Regions from separate parts of the Homo sapiens genome. Here region 2 is reported to be linked to region 1. Evidence: microRNA targets listed by miRTarBase, many of them from high-throughput screens and not tested one by one. Region 1 holds a microRNA gene; the other region holds the end of a gene's coding sequence.

What was found. The annotated mature microRNA hsa-miR-4704-3p reads UCAGUCACAUAUCUAGUGUCUA and lies in region 1 at 2,353-2,374, shown strand. An mRNA with a match to its seed (bases 2 to 7 or 8) in the 3' UTR can be bound and repressed. Matches are read on the target gene's strand: a 7mer-m8 pairs with bases 2 to 8, a 7mer-A1 pairs with bases 2 to 7 and ends in A, and an 8mer does both.
Region 2: the mRNA of SLC25A32 is a reported target of hsa-miR-4704-3p. The part of its 3' UTR that is shown has no 7-base or 8-base seed match.

Annotation. Positions count from the first base shown.
Region 1 is chr13:66,215,944-66,221,016 of GRCh38, forward strand. It overlaps MIR4704 (microRNA 4704), which reads left to right and starts at 2,307; the gene lies at 2,307-2,381.
Region 2 is chr8:103,396,010-103,401,082 of GRCh38, forward strand. SLC25A32 (solute carrier family 25 member 32) reads right to left here. Exons shown (of 7, transcript NM_030780.5): 7 at 2,629-4,537. The coding sequence ends at 4,402. Among named protein-coding and RNA genes, the nearest start is that of SLC25A32, 17 kb to the right of the region's middle.

The DNA of each region.
Region 1 (5,073 bases):
CACCTCATCCAGCCAAGCAGCTGGAACTACAGGTATGTACCATCAAGTCTTGCTATATTGCTGGGATTGAACTCCTGGCCTCAAGCAATTCTCCCAGCTCAGTCTCTCAAAGGGCTGAGATGATGAGCATATGGCACCACAACCAGCCAATATTTCTCGTTAGGTCTCAAGCAGTCATTGAATATCTGCATCCATTCTGCTTCTCTAAAAACTTCTTTACACATCCCTTTTTGATTTTACTATTTGACATCTCTAAAATCTCTTTCTTTTTAAGAGCCAAATCAATAAATGAAGAGACTAATTTCACTGTCAATGCCTTGTCGTTCTTCACTTAGGAGAAATAGGGTAAAAGCAAAACCTCATTACACTACTTTTCTCAATCAAAAACTTTATCAACTTCAGGTTTCCATTCTTACTAATACCAAGAATCAAGAAAACATTCATTTGTTCTTAACTTAACTAGCTCAAATTCTCAGGAAGATGTGTTGGCTACCAACTTGGATTTGTCTTGATAGTAGAATGTGTGGTTCAAGTTAGAGAGTACACGAGAAAATCCAGGGTCAACTGGTTATTTAAAAAATTCTCACTAAAGAGTTTAGTGTCAGAAGAAATGATTTATCAGACTCTGGAACACAGAAAGAAGTACCTAAGAAGAAAAACACCCAACCTCACTAATATGATTTTCATTCTGTGCACAAATAGGTTATTGCTTTGAAACAGGTCAGAGTCTTGAGCTCCAAACAAAGTGGAGCTGTGACTGTGAAGAGTGTGTGTTGATGGGTGCAGAGGTAATGAGATTGCAAACTCAGAAGAAAAGCAAAAGAAAAACAAAAATGAAGAAATCTTGGACTGATGCCTATTTTTTTCTTTCTGTAACTGCGGCCCTTTTTGGAGGAGTTCTAACGATGGGTTAAACCACAAGGAGAAAATTAAACTTCTCTTAAATGTAGTTAAAATCCCTAGAGAGACATGAGTTTGTCACGACTGCCTGAGAAGATATTGGCTGGGATTAAATATTGAATGTGTCTGCCAACAATGACTGCCTGACGTGACACACGAGAGTTTCTCAGTGAGGAAAAAAAAGACCATGTAAGAGTACATGGATTTTATATTTTTCTGTGACTTAGATGTTGGTACCATTTATTAGACGAAAAGAAAAGTGCTGGAGCAGTTGGGGATTTTAAGAAACTACAATTATTGAAATAAGAGCTAAGTGTGATAGGAGGTAAAACCAACTGGGGATATGTAAGAGGTTTGCTGATAAATGTTTAGGGCAGTGGGGAAATAGGATTCCATAGATCCTTTACTGCCAGCAACCTGGTTACATGCTTTTTCTTGATCATAGATAAATAACTTAACTGTAGAAGGTAAGAAGACAAATGGAAGGAGTTAACAGATATTTGAAGATATGCAGATGGTGGGAGAAAGTTCAATGGTAATTGAGAATTGGTTCGCTGACAAGAGGGTTTTCCATAAGAAATAGTCTCTCTATTGGTTTAGAAAAAGTGTAGGACATTAGTAATAAGCTTTTGAATCTCCAAATTATGCCCAATAAATATTCGAATTAGAGTTGCTTCCAGACAGAGATGCCATTCATTTGGGAAGTTTCCCACCCCCCTTCAAATTTCTGAATGGGACAATAGAGGTAGAACCCAGACAACTGGGACATCTTCATAAAATATTCTTGAACATTCATGAGTTGAGTTTAGTGCTATTTGGAAGGAAACTGGTAAGCCTGAGAAAGGCACTAAATTGATAATGAAACACTAAAAAATAGCTTATAATTTGGTGGCATTAATAATTTCAGGTACTCTTTTATGTTTATCTACATTATACCATTTAATAGTCAGAATATACCTATGAAGTAGGTACTATTATTATTATCATTCTACAGATAAGGCAGATAAGGAGATTGAGACACAGAGATATTAAGACTCATACTTAAAGTCACACAAGCAAACGTTAGAACCTGGACTTCAGAGATCTGGCCAGGATCCTGTTCAGTACTTTCGATGTTACTCTAATTCTTCTCTAATTTGGGTTTGCTTCATGAATGTTTCTATATGCTGACATCTTTAAACTTCTGTTTTCTTATCTTTAAAGTTGGAAAAATATTTTATATTTTTTCTGATTATCTCTTGCTCCATAGTAAATTACCCTAAAACAGTAGCTTAAAACAATACCTTTAATTGATTTCATTCACACATTTTTTTCTGCCAAGCCTCGGGCAGCAGTCTTTCTCGAGTCTTTTCTATGGTTGTAGTCAGTTGGTGGCTGGGACTGGAGTCATCTTAAGGATGAATCTTCTTATCCTAGACACTAGGCATGTGAGTGATTGTCTTCCTCACTCAATCAGTCACATATCTAGTGTCTAGAATGAGAAGACTCAAACATCTGGGGGCTAGAACACCTCTTGTCTCTTGATCATCTCTCTGTGTGATCTCACCATGTGTATATGTGATCTCCAGCTGGCCTCTCTAACACATAGTAACTTCAATGAAACCAGACTTCTTATATTGTAGCTTAGGGTTTCAAAACCCAAGACAAAAAGAGCCAGGTAGAAACTGTATTGACTCAAATAACCTAACCTGAAAAGTCCTGTAGTGTCACTAAATTGTACTCTATTCCTTAGACAATTCACTAAGGTCAGTCCATATTCAAGAGGAGGGGAGTTAGACTAACATCTTGAGTGTGGTAGGCTAAATAATGCCTCCCACCCCCCACAAAAGATGCCACTTTCTAATCTCAGAGATCTATGCTATGCTTTACATGGCAAAGGAAACTTTGCAGATATGATTAAGTTAAGGATCTTGAGATGGAGAGATTATCCTGGATAATCCAGGCAGGCTTAATGTAATCACAAAAGGTTCTAATAAGAGAGAGCAGGAGAGTCAGAGTCAGAGAAGGAGATGAGATGACAAAAGCTGAGGTCAGAGTGAGGCCAAGCCCAGGCAAGGCAGCCTCTAGAAGCTGGAAAAGGCAAGGAAACAGATTCTCAACTCAAGCCTCTGGAAGGCTGGAGCCCTTATTTGATTTTTGATCCATTTTGGACTTCTAAATTCAGGAAATGTGAGATATTAAATTTGTGTTGCTTTAAGCCATTTACTTGGTGGTCATTTATCACAGCATCAATAGAAAACAAATACAAGAAGTATCAACTAATTTGTGGGTAGATTTTAAGACTATCACATCTATCATCCTCTTTGATTGGTTGTTCACTAAAAACCCTGTATTATGTGTCTTTCATGTGCTAGCATTGGGTTATATCCCTAAGGATTTAAAGATAAATTAAACATGATTCTTTTCCCCATTATGCTCATAGACAGTATTTATGGAAGGACTTTGTGCAACTCTAAAGGGTAATATAAATGTAATATATTGTGAGTCACTTCCAAAGTTTAATATGCAACCCAACCATTCCTTAATTTACTAAATCGTAAATCAGAATCAATATTTCAACAGATTGGAATTATGCATATATTATGAGTAAATTGCAAACAAATACAGAAGATAATTTGAAAATTAAATGTCAACAGGATTTGCAATAGACATTTACCATGTCTCAAAGTAAGAAAACCTGTTAGAATAAGTATACTGTGGGCAATCTCAGTGTTACAAGGCTGCTAATGAGCCTCTAGTACACTAAGAGACAGCCCCTAGGGATGAAAGGGGAGGATGGCTTATTCTTTCACTGAACTCTTAACTGAGGCAGCTAACAAGGTGCCCAACTGTGATTTAGACACATATCCAGTAGAAACTGGAGATAGAGTGTTAATTTAGTTTGTAAGGGTCACTGAACTAATTCCATTAGGTGACAACTTATGGTCACTACTGATAGGAACAAGAATACAAACCCGAAGCCAAAAAAGAGGGAGAAGAATTTCTTGAACAATCTCACTTACCAGGAAAAGCAATGAGAAAAGAAGCAGTCACTCAACTGAGATGCCTATTTTTGTTATGATATTTAGGTCCTGGAACACCTTTCCACACATGACAGTCACAAACAAAAATATGTAGTGTGACTAGAATATATAAACAAGGTCATGAAAATAAAGTTGATATCCACTAAGCCTTTTTTTAGAGAGCTACATCCACTTCAATCCTTGAAGAAAGTTGTCTGTTCAAAGGATAACAACTCGCAGGGTTAGATGTTAAGAAAGGGGAGTTATCAAGGAAGCTTACAGAAGGGATATTCAGTGGTCTGTCTTGGGTACTGGTGGGCTCTCTTTCCATAGCACAGCTGCCGGCAGCTGGCCAGCACCTCAGGCAGGCAGCTGGTAGGGGAAGAGTGGCCTCTGCCAGCTGGCACTAAAAAATTAAAATTAAAATTAAGGGAAAAAAAAACCCACCCTGAGGCACAGATGCATAACAATCAAGCATTCAGTTTCTGGTGTTCTCCCTTATTCTTCAGTCCTTAGGGAAGCCCAGCAGTGAGGTAGCTCCTCTCTCCCCAACCCAAGGTCCCCAGGCTGCTTTTCTCTGGTTTAGATTCCCTTTTTGGAGGTTTCTCTGTGTTCATGCATCCAAAACACAGTTCTTGAATCATAGCATGTGCCAAGCAATGTGCTAAGGGCTGAGGATGGAAATATAGAAATGAATTACATTTCCTTACTTCCATCAAGGTGCAAATTAAAAGGGCTATAGCTGATTTTTAAATGCCCATAAATAACGACAGAAAGTTGGATGACCATAGTGCTTACGAAACATAGAAGAGAGCCCACAGTGGATGAAGCAAGACAAGTATCACATCAAAAAAGAATAAGAATTAAGGCTTTCTCAGCTGAACAAATGGGAATAGCCTCTTTAAAAGGAATGAACATGAGGAAATAATGGAGGCATAAAATGGAAATTGAATTTTAAAATGTTACTGTACTGTTAGAGTACAGTCTGAGCTGCTACAACAAAAAGACCAAAAACTATAGAAGCTTTGAAATGTCATATATCTCTCTTTGATGGTATGTTTCAGCCAGATATGGCTCATAGGACAGCCCTGTCATCCTCAGTATGCAGTTTCTAGCTTCTGGATTACAGAAGTTGCTTGAGCTCTTGCAATCATTCCTATATCTCAGTTGG
Region 2 (5,073 bases), not on the chromosome of region 1:
ATCATGTCATAGGATTTTCTTCCTATAAGCTATTTTACAATAGCTAAAGAGACCTTGTTATAAAAATGGTAATAATACATACTTTATCTGGAGGATTTTATATTAAGTGTCCACATTCAAAAGAAAATATTAACTCTGATGACTCATAAACTCCAACATACTTTTTAGTTGATATCCCTCTTTTAGTGTGTTTAGAAGACATGACTTTCTAAATATTGTCAGACTACAAAAGCACGTATTGAAATATGATAGTCTTCTTTTCACAAGGCATAGTACCCATCATTGTCCATTGTCTTTGATTACATTCTCTGGTGCACAGCTCCAGCAAGTTGGTTTTTTTTTTTTGTTTGTTTGAAACGGAGTCTCGCTTTGTCGCCAGGTTGTACGGTGGCGTGATCTCAGCTCACTGCAACCTCTGACTCCCTGGTTCAAGCTATTCTCCTGCCTCAGCCTCCAGAGCAGCTGGGATTACAAGCACGCACCACCACGCCCAGCTAATTGTTGTATTTTTAGTAAGTTTCACCATGTTGGCCAGGATGGTCTCGATCTCCTGATCTCGTGACCCGCCCGCCTCAGCCTCCCAAAGTGCTGGGATTATAGGCGTGAGCCACCGTGCCCATCCCCTTAGCCTGTATCTTTATCTTCAAGGGTTCTCCCTACAGCCATGTTCTGGTTTTCCCTTTGCCAACCTCTCCTACCTATACTCCTTCGTAGAACTGCAGTACCTTTACAAGCTAAAGTTCTTTACCTTCCTTTCATCTGCCAAAATCCAGGAAAGAAGAGCCCATAGTGAAATAAATACTTACAGTCACCCCACCCCCTAAGTTGCTTGCAATGTGTCATCAGCCTCTATAATTCAAATCTGCTTTATCAGTGGCATCAATCTTCATCCTACTGAAATATCTATTGGTTGACTAACACCTTCTGTTTTGAATTTGTTCCTCCTGTCTGACCAGTCTTCCTCTGTCACCCCTAAGCAGTAGCCATGTCTCTCTGTTCTAATTACTCTTACTTCTCTTTTACCCAATAAAGCCCACATAGGTTGTCAGGCTCTGAGAGTTCTCATGTCCTGGTCTCAATCTTCCATCTTTCTCTTCCTTTTCCTTTTATTATCACATTAATTGACAACTCACTGTTCAAGGCAGGTCACCTGTGCTTTCCTTTTTCCATGGTTCCCTCTGGAATCTTCATTCAATGCCCAGCTTAAATGTTTCCCCCTCCATGAACCCTGCTCTAGTTCCCCCAAGCTATAAATCACCACTTCAGACTCCATCGACCAGGTCCAAGCTGCCACCTGCTCATGACTCGACATTTGTAAAAGCTTCCCAACTAGTATTCCTGCTTTTTTGCCTTTCTCCTGTTTCCTCTATACAATCACCAGAATGATCTCTCAATCAAAACTCTTCACCATGGCCTACAAGGCCTGGTCTCTGCTAACATTTATTGGCCCAGGCACACTAAGCGCCTTTTAAAAATTCATTAATTTAATCCTCTCAATAATCCTACGGCTATGTACTTTTAATATCCTCATTTGCAGTAGATGCTGTTGGTGACTTACCCAGACCCCTTTCACAGGACTGGTGCACCCATACCCTAGCTGCTGTAGGTGTTGGCTGGTAAGAACTGACACCTCCACCCTTATCTGGAGGATTGCCCTTGGCTGAGGAGAGGTAACAGTCACTCCTCCATCCTTTCTCCCTGTAGCCAGTGGTCCGTGACAGCCTGATGTGGGAACCTAATGGCTCAGCCCCTTCAACTCTGGGCAGGACAACGCTGGGCCCAATTCATTCAGCAGAGTGCCCTATGAGTCAGGGTGAGGCTGCACTACTCCTGAAACTCTTCTTCCCCGGCCTTACCCTGCTTGCTTTACTCCATTACAGATTTCTCCTGAAAGTGCTCCCTCAATCACTTGCCCAAGAATCCCCATCTCCGGCATTGTTACAGAGGAAGTGATCTAAGACACCATTTTACAGATCAGGAAACCTAAGACAAAGAGGGCTGAAGTGATCTGCCTAAGGTCAAACAGAAAATGGGAAAGCTGAATTTTGAAGCCAGAGGGCCTGGCTGTCCCACCTGAGCTCTTTCCCACCATACTGCAGTGGCCACTTCTCCAACCTCCTCTCTCTCCTCACCCATCCCCTCTAGCCAACTTAATTCCTCCCTCAGGCCCTTTTTACTTCCTGTCCTCTCTGCCTAGAATGTGTTTCCTCTCACTGTGGCTCGCTTCCTCACTTCTTTCAAAATGTTCCAAATACTATCTCAGAGACCTTTCCTGACCCCAACCATACTACCTAAGATAGCAACACTATTCCCCCGTTCTGCTGTAGTTTTATTTATAGCATTAAATACCTGAAATTACATTATGCATATATTTCCTTTTCTGTCACTTACACCAAGATGAAAATTCCCTGAGGGCAGGAATATTGTCTGGCTTATTTATTGCTATATCCTCAGTGCTTGGTGACGTACCTGCCAAAGAGCAGGAGTTGAGTGACTATTTGTTGTTGAATGACTGAAATTGAGTTCTCTTCTGTCAGAACTCTTACCAGGCTTTGTGAGATATTCCTTACGAGTTCTTAATCTATAGCTGTAATTATTTAATGCATATTTATCTATCACACAAGCTTGTATGCTCTCAGAGGACAAGAATTATGTTTTATTCATTTGGGAGTACATAGGCGGTATTTAAACAATGGTGCTATCTTAAACACCAAATATCAACTGCAGTTCACTTTTTCCGTGTGGGGACTAATATCAAGATTTCATATGAATTATAGTATAATCCAGAAGTATGAAAAAATACATCATATTTAACTTATAAAGCATTCATCTGCATGTTATAAGATATTACAGTAAATACAATTAGGTACTTACCATTTTATCTTTACTTTAAAAACAATGCCTTTTCCAAAATATAAAAAAAAGACCTATTTTTAAAGAACTATTTAAAGATGGCTTTGAAAACAACACTTTTATTTACAACAAATAGATGGTAGTGCAACAGCACTCGTGGATGTTTACGATAAATAAAAATACTAGTATTCTGGCATCCTTTGGGTACAGGCCCTTTTATATTTATAGATGTCTACAATGACTCATAAAAGTAAAATCAATAAAGGCTATTAATTTGTATTTCAACCTGAATTTGAGAAACCAATGAAGATTAATCATTTATTTGGGATCTAGATCCATATATCTGAAAACTGAAGTATAAAGTTTCTCATTTCCATTTACCTTGTCAACAAACATATCCCAAACATTTCAGCATCTGTAAAAGGTGATCTATTTAGCATCTGTAATAAGTGATTTATAGTTATATATGCTAAATAAAGGTTGACACAGCTGGATCCTAGAAGCTCAGATTTTATAAATTTAAAATAGATTAAGTATTTATGCCAAAAAACAAGAACTGGATCTAGGATTTTATTTTAAATTATGGAAGTCTCTGGGGAAAAAAAATAGCAATGGAATGACAATAGATGTCAGATATTTCTCTGAGAAGTATATAGTTTCTCAATTTTCGCTAGGTAGTGCATCCCAACTGAATTAAAACTAAAGCATATTTACAGTGCATTTTTTCTCACTAAAATTTCCCAATTCTAAAATGGTCTGGCCAGGCGCAGTGGCTCACGCCTGTAATCCCAGCACTTTGGGAGGCCAAGGCAGGCGGATCACAAGGTCAGGAGATTGAGACCATCCTGGCTAACATGGTGAAACCCCATTTCTACTCAAAATATAAAAAAAAGTTAGCCAGGCGTGGTGGCAGGTGCCTGTAGTCCCAGCTACTCAGGAGGCTGAGGCAGGAGAATGGCGTGAACCCGGGAGGTGGAGGTTGCAGTGAGCTGAGATCACGCCACTGCACTCCAGCCTGGGCGACAAAGCAAGACTCCATCTCAAAAAATAAATAAATAAAAAAATAAAATAAAATGGTCTGGATTTGGTCAACACCTTATTCAGTAAATCCTTAATTTACCTTGAGACATACAAAGACATTCTTTTAAAGAGCTATTTTCTTGGTATTGCACAAAGGTTAATTTTAAAGCAATCCAGGCAAGTAAGCTCACAAAAAGAAGTACATTCATCTAATCCATTTAGCAAATGTTGCAAATCAGCTTCCACCAATAAAACGTAGAAATCTGTGAAACTCTATCCTTCGTGTCAGTTTTAACATTGTGTTGATGGCAGCCATTTCAGGCAGAGGTAGCCAAGTTCCATATATATGGGGAAGGCAAAAAGCAAGAAAAACATTGCAGGAGACTTAGCAGTTCTCTGGCTTCTAATGACTATAGAGCAATTTCGAATATGAGCCATGTTTCTATGCAGAATTCTTCTTTTATGCCTTAAACACAAAAGAGCTTGTTGCTGCCTTGGGCAGATATACTGGAATTGTCCTCTTTGAGCTTACTTTCTCTTTTCTCTAAGGTCAAGTAAAAAATGTGAGACGTTTTCATATACCACAAAGGTAATACAGCAGGCTGGAGTCACTCTAATCAAATTAGGAGCAATTCCCTTGTAAAATCCACCGACGCCTTCTTTCCTTTAGAGGGAAAAATAGATAATGCTTAATTTTGTATAGAGCTAGCTTGAAAACACGGAAGTTCTAACTGACACAAGGCATGGAGCAAGCAGCAGTCAAACCTTACTCTGATTTAAGTTCATGTTTTCAATGTCCTAAAGTAATGTAGTTTATAAGCCATCTGTAGGGATTTACATTCCTTTTATGGATGGACTGAGTAAGAGAGGGTAGGGACACCTCAAAACTGAACTAAAAAGTGCTTTCAATTAGCTATCTTTCAAATGCTTTTAAATGTATGTACAAGCAGGAGTTTTAATTGACCTAATGTAGGCATTAAAAAACCTCATAGCTTGGATAAATGCTAGCCAACATTAAATACAGCACATACAAATATAAAACTTTATTTCCTTAATGCCAATAATATGGAATACGGCCTAGAAATTTGTCACTTAGGTGCTCATTAAATATTTCTTGAATTGAATTAAATTTAAACATCCTAAATGTTCTCCTCTGTTCCTTTAGAATTAAAGGGAAATATGGTGATGTCTGCCTATAAT